Homo sapiens: one gene and its partners. The protein of the gene in region 1 interacts with the protein of each later gene in a pairwise test. Each region holds a gene or a part of one and is shown in the gene's direction. Other genes may lie near its edges.

What was found.
Region 2: the proteins of NUFIP2 (region 1) and FHL5 interact in binary tests that used the Homo sapiens proteins (3 or more experiments, as listed by UniProt).
Region 3: the proteins of NUFIP2 (region 1) and GRN interact in binary tests that used the Homo sapiens proteins (3 or more experiments, as listed by UniProt).

The regions. Positions count from the first base shown.
Region 1 is NC_000017.11:29,292,712-29,296,463, reverse strand, and holds the start of NUFIP2 (FMR1-interacting protein NUFIP2), read left to right. Parts: upstream 1-2,315; 5' UTR 2,316-2,404; coding exon 2,405-2,681; intron 2,682-3,752. UniProt on the Homo sapiens protein: Binds RNA.
Region 2 is NC_000006.12:96,615,018-96,618,769, forward strand, and holds the end of FHL5 (four and a half LIM domains protein 5), read left to right. Parts: intron 1-591; coding exon 592-755; 3' UTR 756-3,609; downstream 3,610-3,752. UniProt on the Homo sapiens protein: May be involved in the regulation of spermatogenesis. Stimulates CREM transcriptional activity in a phosphorylation-independent manner.
Region 3 is NC_000017.11:44,343,257-44,347,008, forward strand, and holds the start of GRN (progranulin precursor), read left to right. Parts: upstream 1-2,045; 5' UTR 2,046-2,078; intron 2,079-3,752. UniProt on the Homo sapiens protein: Secreted protein that acts as a key regulator of lysosomal function and as a growth factor involved in inflammation, wound healing and cell proliferation. Regulates protein trafficking to lysosomes, and also the activity of lysosomal enzymes.

The DNA.
Region 1 (3,752 bases):
GTCAACTGATCTGCCATGGTCTCCCAAAGCGTTGGGATTACAGGTGTGAGCCACCACACCTGACCTGTTTTTTCTTTAATAATTGGGAACGTGGCAGAATATTATTCAGTGGTAAAGACTTATTGTGATATGATATTATTATTAGGGTTTTCATTCTCAAAATTGGGTAAATGTACCCCCAAAGAGGTTTTTCTTTAAAATTTAGCAAAGCTGGCTGGGCCTGGTGGCTCATGAATCCCAGCACTTTGGAAGGCTGAGGTGGGCAGATCACCTGAGATCAGGAGTTCGAGACCAGCCTGGCCAACATGGAGAAACCCCATCTCTATTAAAAATACAAAATTAGCCTGGCACAGTGGCGCATGCCTGTAATCCCAGCTACTCAGGAGGCTGAGGCAGGAGAATTGCTTGAACCCAGGAGGCAGAGGTTGCGGTGGGCTGAGATCATGCCATTGCACTCCAGCCTGGGCAACAAGGACAAAACTCCATCTCAAAATAAAATAAAATAAAATTTAACAAGGCAACACAAATCCTTACTGTATAGAACATGCCAAAATTTGGTCATGGTTTTCAGGATTCAATGACATTTGTTATTGGAAACCAGCTTTTACGTTTTAAATAAGCTTTTGCATTGACATTCATTAATTTCATAGCATAAACTTTTTGCTTTCAAGCTTCTTGTTCCTTTAATGTTGTCCTGTTGTAGGAATTCAAGCCACATTTTAAAAATTCAAAAACGTAACATACATTGAGGAAACAGTCCATATGTCCGTTGCTGAGTGAATGAACAAAATGTGGTATATACATATAATGGAATATTAGTCAGCCTTAAAAAAGAGGGAAATTCTGATGTATGCTACTCTGAAGACATTATGCAAAAAAGCTAGTCACAAAAAGACAAATACAGTACAATCCCACTTATATGAGGTACCTAGAATAGTCAAGTTCGTAGAGACAGAAAACAGAACAGTGGTTATCAAGGGATGGAAGGAGGAGGGAAAGGACATTTATTTTTATTGGGTATGAAGTTTCAGTTTGGAATGATGAAAAAGTTCTGGAGATAGATGATGGTCATGGTTCTACAACAATACGAATGTACCTAATGCACCTGAACCATACACTTAATATTAAGATGGTAAATTTTATATTATGAATATTTTACAATTAAAAAAATCCCCCAATCTATAACATACATTGGGAAAAGTGCATTTTATCTGTATATTCAGTTTAACAAATAATTACTAAGCAAATATATGTAATCACCACCTAGCCCCCAAAATGAAATATTATCAGAGTAACCTGTGTCCCTCCCCATCACAACCCTCTTCCTTCCTGAGTAACCACTATCATGGCTCTAACATTTGCTTTTGAAAATCATATACTGTGATGTGGTAATGCAGGATAAGTTAAATCTACACTACAAAACGCTACAGAATATTTCTTTTAATTTCAATTTTTCCATAAGTGCCAAAAAAAAAAAAAACAAACCCACTTAATAACTTTTAAGTGCTCTTTCTCCCCTTCCTTTGCTCTTGAAACTTCTCATTCTAAAACCTATTTTGGTTCCACAGTTGACCTCACCTGCAGAGTTTAATTAAAAAAAAAAAAACCTTCAGTGTAAATTTTCATTCCTCCTGCTCTCCCTTGCCTCCAACTACAAAGAAACAATGATTTAAACCCTTTGTGCCCTTTTAGAAAATTACACAGATACCCCATTGTGGAACCCTATAATCCCTTCGTGGAAAGGAAGAGATTAGCATATGAATACAAAGCAAAATGAATCCAGAATACAAAATGATCTACTGGATTGTGAAGCTCTTGTATGCTTAAAAATGTATTTATTTCCTCTTTTTGTATTGCCCCTTTAGTGGTCTCGGGGTTAAGGGAATTGAGCTTCCCTTTCTGGTTACCCGGAAAAGGATTAAAAACAAAACAAAACAAAAAACAAAAAAACACCAGATTCTAAGAGGTGCAAAGCCAGCAGATGGCTCACAGCACCAGTGGAATCGCCAGTGGAATCTGCTACCCTCGACACGAGCCTGCTTGCCGGCGAGGAGTGTAGAAAGTGCTGTTCACAGACTGCGTGGTGAAGGAGAGAAAGCGACAGAAGAGAGAGCCATAGTGCTGACGTTGAAGGCCCGGCCCTGTGAGGTTGCACAGGGTAAGTGGCGTTGGCCAGGCGGCAGCGGCGAAGGGGAAGGAAAGAGGATTTGAGCTGGGGGCGGGGCTTGCGGCACAGCGTGGCTCCTGATTGTTGGAGTGCGGCTGCCAATCTCGCAGAATCGCTCGGTTAACCAGTGCGCTGGCGAGACGCGCTCAGATATACTGAGTGAGCCCTGAGAAGCAGTCTCAGATCCTGACGGTGCAGCAGCCCGCAGCCTCAGCCAGGGAGTCCCAGCCGCTTTCAATGGAGGAGAAGCCCGGCCAGCCACAGCCTCAGCACCATCACAGCCACCACCATCCGCACCATCACCCTCAGCAGCAGCAGCAGCAGCCGCACCACCACCACCATTATTATTTCTACAACCACAGCCACAACCACCACCACCACCATCATCACCAGCAGCCTCACCAATACCTGCAGCATGGAGCCGAGGGCAGCCCCAAGGCCCAGCCAAAGCCGCTGAAACATGAGCAGAAACACACCCTCCAGCAGCACCAGGAAACGCCGAAGAAGAAAACAGGTCTGGGAGGGAGGACGGGTGGGGGAAGGGGGTTGGGGGTGGAGGACAGGAGAGATGGGGGTGGGGCTGGATCCGAAAAGCGCGGACGGGGTCGGGGTGTGTGTGTGTGTGTCCCCTCCGGCTCTGGGGATGCCCCTTTCATTCTAGAGCTCGGGCTGAGCAATGGGGTTTGCAGCGCCCTCTCCTTCCCTCCAGCATGGGAGAGGCCCAGCCAGGCCAGCGTGACCTTCCTGGCCCCGGCCCCGGCTGAAGGGAGACCTGCTGGGTCGGCCTTGCAAGTCCAACCTCATTATTCTTTTCCCATTCACCTCCCTGCGTCCCTGGAGTTACCTCAATTTGGGGGCCCTGAGATGGGGTAAACCTACCCCCCCAAAAAATCCCTCGAGGTGTAACTCAGGAAGGCCTAGCGAATCCCGACTCGGATGGTGTCGCGAGACCCTTTTGCAGGCGGCGAGGAGTGGGTAGGTAGGGTGAGTTGAGGAAGTGCCCCTCACCCGCCACCCCAAGCCCACCTGTGGCCTTGGGGCTCCCCGTCTCGGTGGGGGGGGCTGTTGGGACCCCTCATCTCACGGGTCATTTCCACCACTAAACGCCCTTTTTGGGCGCCGGACCCCGCAGTCTTGTCCCGCGGCTCCTCCCGAGGCCGGCGCCCCGCGCCCGCTCCCCCCAGAGCCGGCGCGGCTGGAATGTTCTCTCCTCCTCGCGGGGCCGCTTCCTGTCCGCCATGTTGGAAGCCGATTCCTGTCACCGACTCCGGCCCACTGAGGAGCGGAGGGGGAAGGGTGTCGAGGGCCACACGGGGCGGCGGAGCCGGGTGACCCGGGATCACCACCGGCCGCAGCCTCGCCCCCTGCACTGCGGGGGCGCCGGCGCCCCCCGCACCGCGGCCGCCCCCCCCCCCGTCGCCGGCCGGGGTTGTGTAACCCGGTGGCGGCGCGCGGCCCCGGGCGGGTCCCTGGGGTGAGGGGCGGGGGCGGTTGGGGTGGGGGAGGGAAGCGGCCACGAGGGGAGCGGCCTGCGCAGGGCCCCGCGCGCCAGCGGCCGCGTTTCCCGCTCCCGGGTGCGGCGGGA
Region 2 (3,752 bases), on another chromosome or scaffold:
TCCTCTATTTGGTTATGCTTTCTAGAAATAGTGTCCCAAACCGTATAACCCCAGGACATATTCTAAGTACAACTAAGCACAGAAAAATGAGGGGAAAGAAGAAAACTAAAACTCATTACAACATTGGACATCAAACTAGGAAGCATACATTTATTTCCTTTTATCTTCATTTTGCAGCTAAGAAAACTTAAAGTCATATAGAGAAAAAGGGGAAATGTATTCATACTTAGATATCTCTGACTTCACAACCTATACCTTCTTTCCACTATGCTACACTGTATTGTCTTATCTGGCTTAGACAACCTTATCTGTTTCCAAAAATACCTGACTTGCATATTAGCATTCTGCCTTCTTCTGTTGATTATGGCAGAATTTGGCTGTGAATCTGGTTGGGTGGCATAGGTGTAACTTTCCTACAGTGGATAGTTCCAGATGGACACAGGGCCAGGAAGCAGCATTCTTTTTTGGGTTATTTGCCTCTGCGTTGTTTTGCTCATAGCTCTATCTCCAGTTCCTAGAGGAGCATCTGCTAGAATGCTCAATCTGTTCCTTGAAAGGATAGATTAATCTTTTTCTCCAATTCCTTTACAGGTCTCACAGGTGCCAAGTTTATCTGCTTTCAAGACAGCCAGTGGCATAGCGAATGCTTTAACTGCGGGAAATGCTCTGTCTCCTTGGTGGGTAAAGGCTTCCTGACCCAGAACAAGGAAATCTTCTGCCAAAAATGTGGCTCCGGAATGGACACTGACATCTAGGAGACAGTCCTTGCCCACCTAAAATCCATTTTGCCTTCGTTGTCACTAAAGCCAGAACTCAGTTGCGGTCTTATTTTTGACTTAAGTTTTAGAAAATATTCATGTAGTTTAGAGTGGAAAAGTTTTTGCACACATTTTGATCGAACTATATTCTAAGCACACAAAAAGCACAGTAGAACAGAAATGAATATATGCTAAATCACAAAGACAACTCTCCTTGCAAAATACTGCACTCTGCTGTTAGAAGCAGAGGAAAATATCTCTTCATAATCAAATATATGACATATACCTAGGAGCTGTGGATGTAATTACTGAAGAATGAGGTTTTTCATACCTGAAGAGTAAAAGAAAAACTAAGAGATCAAACTGAGAGGTATACATGAGGCTAGTGTTTGCATTCCTGGTTATATGTAATGTGATAAATTAGCTATGAATGGTAAAAGAACAAAACTGATCAGAGTAAATTCATTAGCAATTATCACATTTAAGAATTGTTATCATTTAAAAATCATCCTTTTTTTCACACATACTGACTGTAGAATTAAAAAACAAAGCTACAATTTGCCCTCATACACACTGCTTCCACAGCTTGCTAGTTCTGTGTTTACTCAATGGAATATGAGAACTGAGGACATTATGGCTCTCATAATCTGCATAGGTATAAAGAGGATCATTTCTACCTAGGGATAGCCAAAGCATGGGTTTCAACACGTTTTGTATTAAATATATTTTCAAAGTCCACAGTGATTTTTCTAAACGCTTACAGATTCCATGAAATAAAAGTCTATTCTTTCAAGTGGAGCTAACCAGGATAATCTTTGTCCCCAAAGGCAAACCTTTAAAATAAATAGATCATTAAATCTTCACTTGTGGAAATGAGTTTTAGGGAAGGGATTGAGTCTTGGAACATGACTTTCATCCAGATATCTAACGACATAATAGAATGCATAATTAGCTCTGTGCCTCATGCATTATTGCCTTCTAAAATTACATAAATGATTAATGGGCAGACATAAAAGTGGGCTTTAAAGAAATCTAGTAATAATAAAAGCTGAAAAAGAATAATTCACTGCTGATAATTCAGAACCTGCAAAGCAGCACAATAGAGTAATGTGGGCTGTAGGCGAGCCCTCCCCACTCTTCCCCCACACCTGTGCCACACCCCCCTTACCCCAAGCCAGTTGTGCCCCCAGTTTCAATCTCCTGCATAACCAGGAGGTGCACTCCTAACCCTAAGCAACTGTCCTATAAGTCAGTCAGTGTTTATTGATCACACAGGAAGTAAAGAGCCTTAGTGAGAAGTCCATCACCAGGTTTATCTTTATACCAGACTTTAACTGATCATGACCCTATCTTGCTACCCCTGGATATTTTCCACATTACTTGGGACAAATGGAAAGCAACCTCTGCTCTCCATGATCTGTTTTCACATTGGTTATAGCATCTCTTGGATGGAGTAGAGGGAGGTCAGGAGAAGAAGCCCACATAGATATATAACTGTCTTCTCTCAGATTACACATTATAGCATTAAAGGTTTTGATTAAAATCTAATTGTAAGATACTGCTGATTACAATTACCAAAATAGCATCACAGGAGATTCAATTAAAATTGTTATGGAAATAATTTTTGAAATAGTTTAAAATGCAAGAATATTCAGCGATGTTAATAATTTAGAGATACTAATAAGTGTTCTGCTAGATAGACTATTTGAAAACTATAAATGTATTTTTGGATTAACAATGCCAAGGTATTTTTTCATATTCACATTGAAAAATACAGGCAAAACTATCAATATTTTTTCTGCATTATATGAAATTTCACAGGTAGAACTAAATCTATGATATAGAAAATAATAGCACATTACACATAGAGAAAACCAAGCCACTTAGGTTTAGATAGATATATAACATGTAACATCTTCTCTGTTAACCAATTATAGATACATATACAACATGTAATGTTTTCTTAGTTAAACAATTGGAAATGTTTAGGCATTTTACTGTGTGGGGGCAGTGAGTATGCACATGATCAGACTTGTATTCTAGCTTTACAATTAAAATTCACAGAATCATTTCCTAAAGATTTTATTATCCTTTCATAAGTATAAATATATATACTTTTACATATAAATAGTTCTGCATTTAGAAGGTATCCTACACATCAAACATCCATTAAACATGTACTATGCCAAAAGTTAGAGCTTATACTGTTGTGGGTCTGGAGTTGTAGGAGGATGGATCATGGTATGGAAATGCAGAAGTGCCTGATGCAAAGATCCTTGCCTGCAGGTTAAACAAAGCACCACATATGTAGACATAGCACACATATGCAAAACAACTAAGAAAAAGACCTCCTTAGGTCTTTGCGTAACACACACAAAGATAAATGTAAAAATTATATAGTTGATTTATATGGTTTATGTAACAAAGAGAAAAACTCCTTAATGGACTTATCCAAAGATGAAATGGACTGACTCAGGAAACAGTGGGCTCCCAGTAATTCAAAGGTGACATCTGCATGGGCAGGAAAGAAGTTAAAAGCAAATCCCATGTGCCAATAACAACCAGATGGCTTGGAAGTAGCAGAGACTGCCGAAGAGCAGGAGAAAATAAGATTGCTAAAAGAGAAAGAGTCAGAGGAAGGGAGAATATTAACTCTTAGGATAAAAAGTGACATAACCGGCCATAGAAAGTTACCAACTGTTCATAAGTAAAGGAAGAAAATAATTATTGTAGTGTTTGAGGAAAATTATGCTTTTGATCCTTTGTGGAATAGAACCAAAGAAAGCAAGGTTCCAAGGATTAAGTTTCTTACTGAAGGAATAAGTTTGGTTAATGGCTACAAAAGTGAAAAGAAAGAGGAAGAAGGCATTGAAGGCCACGAGTTACATTTGTTGGCAAAGATGAGTATGCAAGTCAACAAGTCAAAATATTTTATTTTGTCATGTTGGGGATTAAAGATGACAAAAGAAGCAAAAATGTATTTCTGCTTCAATA
Region 3 (3,752 bases), about 15 Mb from region 1:
TAAATGTCCCTGGCCGGCAAAATTGCCGCTGCTCAAGAATCACGGCTTTGACGATTAGACTTTGTGATATTTGTTTCAGTCTGTTTAGGTTTTTTTTCTTCTACCTGTATTTTTTTCTGGTTCTGGGTGGTTGTAATTAGTAGGTTATTGATCGATTCACCTAACATTTCATGAAAGTTTCATGTGTGTGTGTGTTTCAATAGAAGCATAAACTATACTCCCTAGTCTCAAGATACACAGGAAGGAAAATAAGCACAAATGTGTCACCAGGGCACAGACTAGTACTAGGTCCTCAGCAGGCCAGGTGTCTTATCCGCTGTCTGGGTCTGCTCTAGCTCCAGGCTTAGAACCCCTGCCACACGACTCCACAGCTCGGTTGGCACCCTTTCCCTCCTCCGACTTCTGCTGCCTCGAGCTTGGTTAGCCATCCCCCTGCCCCTGCCTCATCCTCAGCTCCAGTTCCTTGCTCAGGCTGCAGCAGTCTCCATCCCCTGTGCAGACACTGCCGTTCCTCCACGGCCCAGTATCAGGCTTTCCCTGGGCCTCTCCTCTCTCCTGGCCCATCTCCCATCATCCATCTCTGCCTGGCCCAGGCCCTTTGGCACCAAGCAGGCTGACTCTTGTCACTGGCTAATCTGTTCTGTGGTACATTTTCTCTCCTCACCCTCCCATATCAATTCCTCGAAGGCAGGGCCGATCTGGAGACTAGGAAGCCACTTCTCTTTCGACAGCCCCCACCACAGCCCAGCCCGTGCCAGGCACCCAGCAGCTCCTGAAGCCCACTGGCATTGAACATGGCATTCAATCCCTGCCAAGCCTGCCCTTCCCATCTGGTTTCCCAGGGCTCTTCCCAACACCTCCTCCTCCACCTGCCAGTTAAAATCTTCCCAGACTCAGCTCAAGGAGATGCTCCTAAGGTGGAATGAAATCTCTTCTTCCCCACCTGGAGACAATCTACTTCCTCTCCCTACACCTGGCAACTGGCGCACAACCTTGTATCTTAAATTAGATTCAGCCTGAGACTGTCTCCCACCAATCCCTGCTCCCTGTCCTGCTGAGCACCTTGAGGAAAGGGCTTTGGGGCTGTTTATCTTTGTCCTGGAAACCATCCTTCAACTCACTCTGGGGCCTGCCTAGCATGTCAACCGAGTTTGGAGAATAGGGCAGAATAGGGCAGGACAGGACAGGACAAGACAGGGCAGGATAGGATAGGAGCGAGCCAGCTCAGTAGCTCACATTTGTAATCCCAGCGCCTTGGGGGGCTGCGGTAGGAGAATCGCTTTGGGAGCAGGAGTTGCAGGCCGCAGTGAGCTATGATCAGCTTGGGCGACTGAGCGAGACCCTGTCTCTAAAACAAACACACAAGTCCGGGCGCGGTGGCTCATGCCTGTAATCTTAGCACTTTGGGAGGCCGAGGTGGGCGGATCACGAGGTCAAGAAATCGAGACCATCCTGGCCAACATGGTGAAACCCCGTCTCTACTAAAAATACAAAAATTAGCTGGGCGTGGTGGTGCGCGCCTGTAGTCCCAGCTACTCGGGAGGCTGAGGCAGGAGAATCGCTTGAACCCGGGAGGCAGAGGTTGCAGTGAGCCGAGATCGTGCCACTGCACTCCAGCCTGGCGACAGAGTGAGACTCCGTCTCAGAACAAACAAACAAAAGGATAGAAAGGCGAGCACAAATATTCCCAATTCATAACACTCCCTCGCACTGTCAATGCCCCAGACACGCGCTATCATCTCTAGCAAACTCCCCCAGGCGCCTGCAGGATGGGTTAAGGAAGGCGACGAGCACCAGCTGCCCTGCTGAGGCTGTCCCGACGTCACATGATTCTCCAATCACATGATCCCTAGAAATGGGGTGTGGGGCGAGAGGAAGCAGGGAGGAGAGTGATTTGAGTAGAAAAGAAACACAGCATTCCAGGCTGGCCCCACCTCTATATTGATAAGTAGCCAATGGGAGCGGGTAGCCCTGATCCCTGGCCAATGGAAACTGAGGTAGGCGGGTCATCGCGCTGGGGTCTGTAGTCTGAGCGCTACCCGGTTGCTGCTGCCCAAGGACCGCGGAGTCGGACGCAGGTAGGAGAGCGGCCGCGCAGACCTCTCGCCTGCTCCTGCCCAGGGGCCCGCCAGGGCCATGTGAGCTTGAGGTTCCCCTGGAGTCTCAGCCGGAGACAACAGAAGAACCGCTTACTGAAACTCCTTGGGGGTTCTGATACACTAGGGGGAGTTTTATGGGAAAGAGGAAGCAGTAATTGCAGTGACGCCCCGTTAGAAGGGGCTTTCTACCTCCCCAGCATTCCCCCAAAGCAGGGACCACACCATTCTTGACCCAGCTCCACCCCTGTCGGTAGGTGCTGGCTTCTTCCCCTCTCCTGGTGGTGGTGGGTGGTTCCCGCGGCGGCCTGGAGCCGGAGGGGCGCGCGACCCTGGGCTGGGAGCTCCGAGGGCCTGGGAACGAGACCTGAGACCTTGGCTTCTCGAAGGTAGTAGGGACTTGGGAGTGGTGACTGAACCTGGTCTGGCTCCTCCTTACTTCCTCTTGTTGCGGGTGGGACGAGCTAGCTTCCGCCTCTCCCAGCCACTTTTTCCTGCTCATTTGCAGCTAGGTTGGCTCCCCTTTTGGGAATTTCCTCTCCCCTTGGCACTCGGAGTTGGGGGGTGCCACCTAGTGGAAGATAACGGAGCTAGGGTCTTGAAGAGGCTGCTGTCCCCTCTGGCTGTTTTGGCGGTGTAGGGTGGCATGAGAGACTGCGACTCGCCTCCTCATCCCTGTTTCTGTATGCGAGTGCTTGTATTCAGTAGAAGCATACACTATACTCCCTCAATTTAGGGTAAACAGGAGGGGCCACATGCACAGGTAATTCACCAGGGAGCCGAACACTCCTGTGCAGACAGACTCCCCTTCCCAGCAAGCCATGGCAGCGGACAGCCTGCTGAGAACACCCAGGAAGCAGGCGGTGCCAGCTGCAGGTGCTTTGCCTGGGAGCTGTGGGGCTGAGGAGAGGGTCCACTGTCCAGGACCAGTGAACTTCATCCTTATCTGTCCAGGAGGTGGCCTCTTGGGGATGCTGAGTTAGGGGAGGGGCACTTGAGGAAAGCCAGGTGGAGCAGAGAGGATGTGAGTGACTGGGTGGGTGAGATTTCCTGCCCCTCCCCCCGCAGTGGTATCCACACCTAGACTCGTGGGGTAACTGAGGCACAGACAGAGAGCAACTTCTCAGGCCCTCACAGTTGGCAATTCTAGGATTAGGACCCAAGTGCGATTTTCAGGCAGTCCCTGTACCCTGTTTCTGTTGTACCTGTTGCACCATTCCCAGGCACTGCCCATCGTGCCACTAGTGATATGAACCCAGGTCCAATACGCTCTGGGGCCATCAAAGCCTGACGTCACCATGACCTGATGTGTGACGTGTTATAGGTGTCCCTTGGTATCTTCACGGAACTGGTTCCAGGACCCCAAAATCTGTGGGTGCTCAAGCCCCTGAGATAAAATGGTGTAATATTTGCATATAACCTATACATACTTTAAATCATTTCTAGATTACTTATACCTAATACAATGGAAATGACATGTCGGCTGGGCGTGGTGGCTCATGCCTGTAATCCCACCACTTTGGGAGGCCGTGGCAGGTGGATCACCTGAGGTCTGGAGTTTGAGACCAGCCTGACCAACATGGTGAAACCCCCATCTCTACTAAAAATACAAAAATTAGCCAGGTGTGGTAGCGCACACCTATAATCCCACCTACT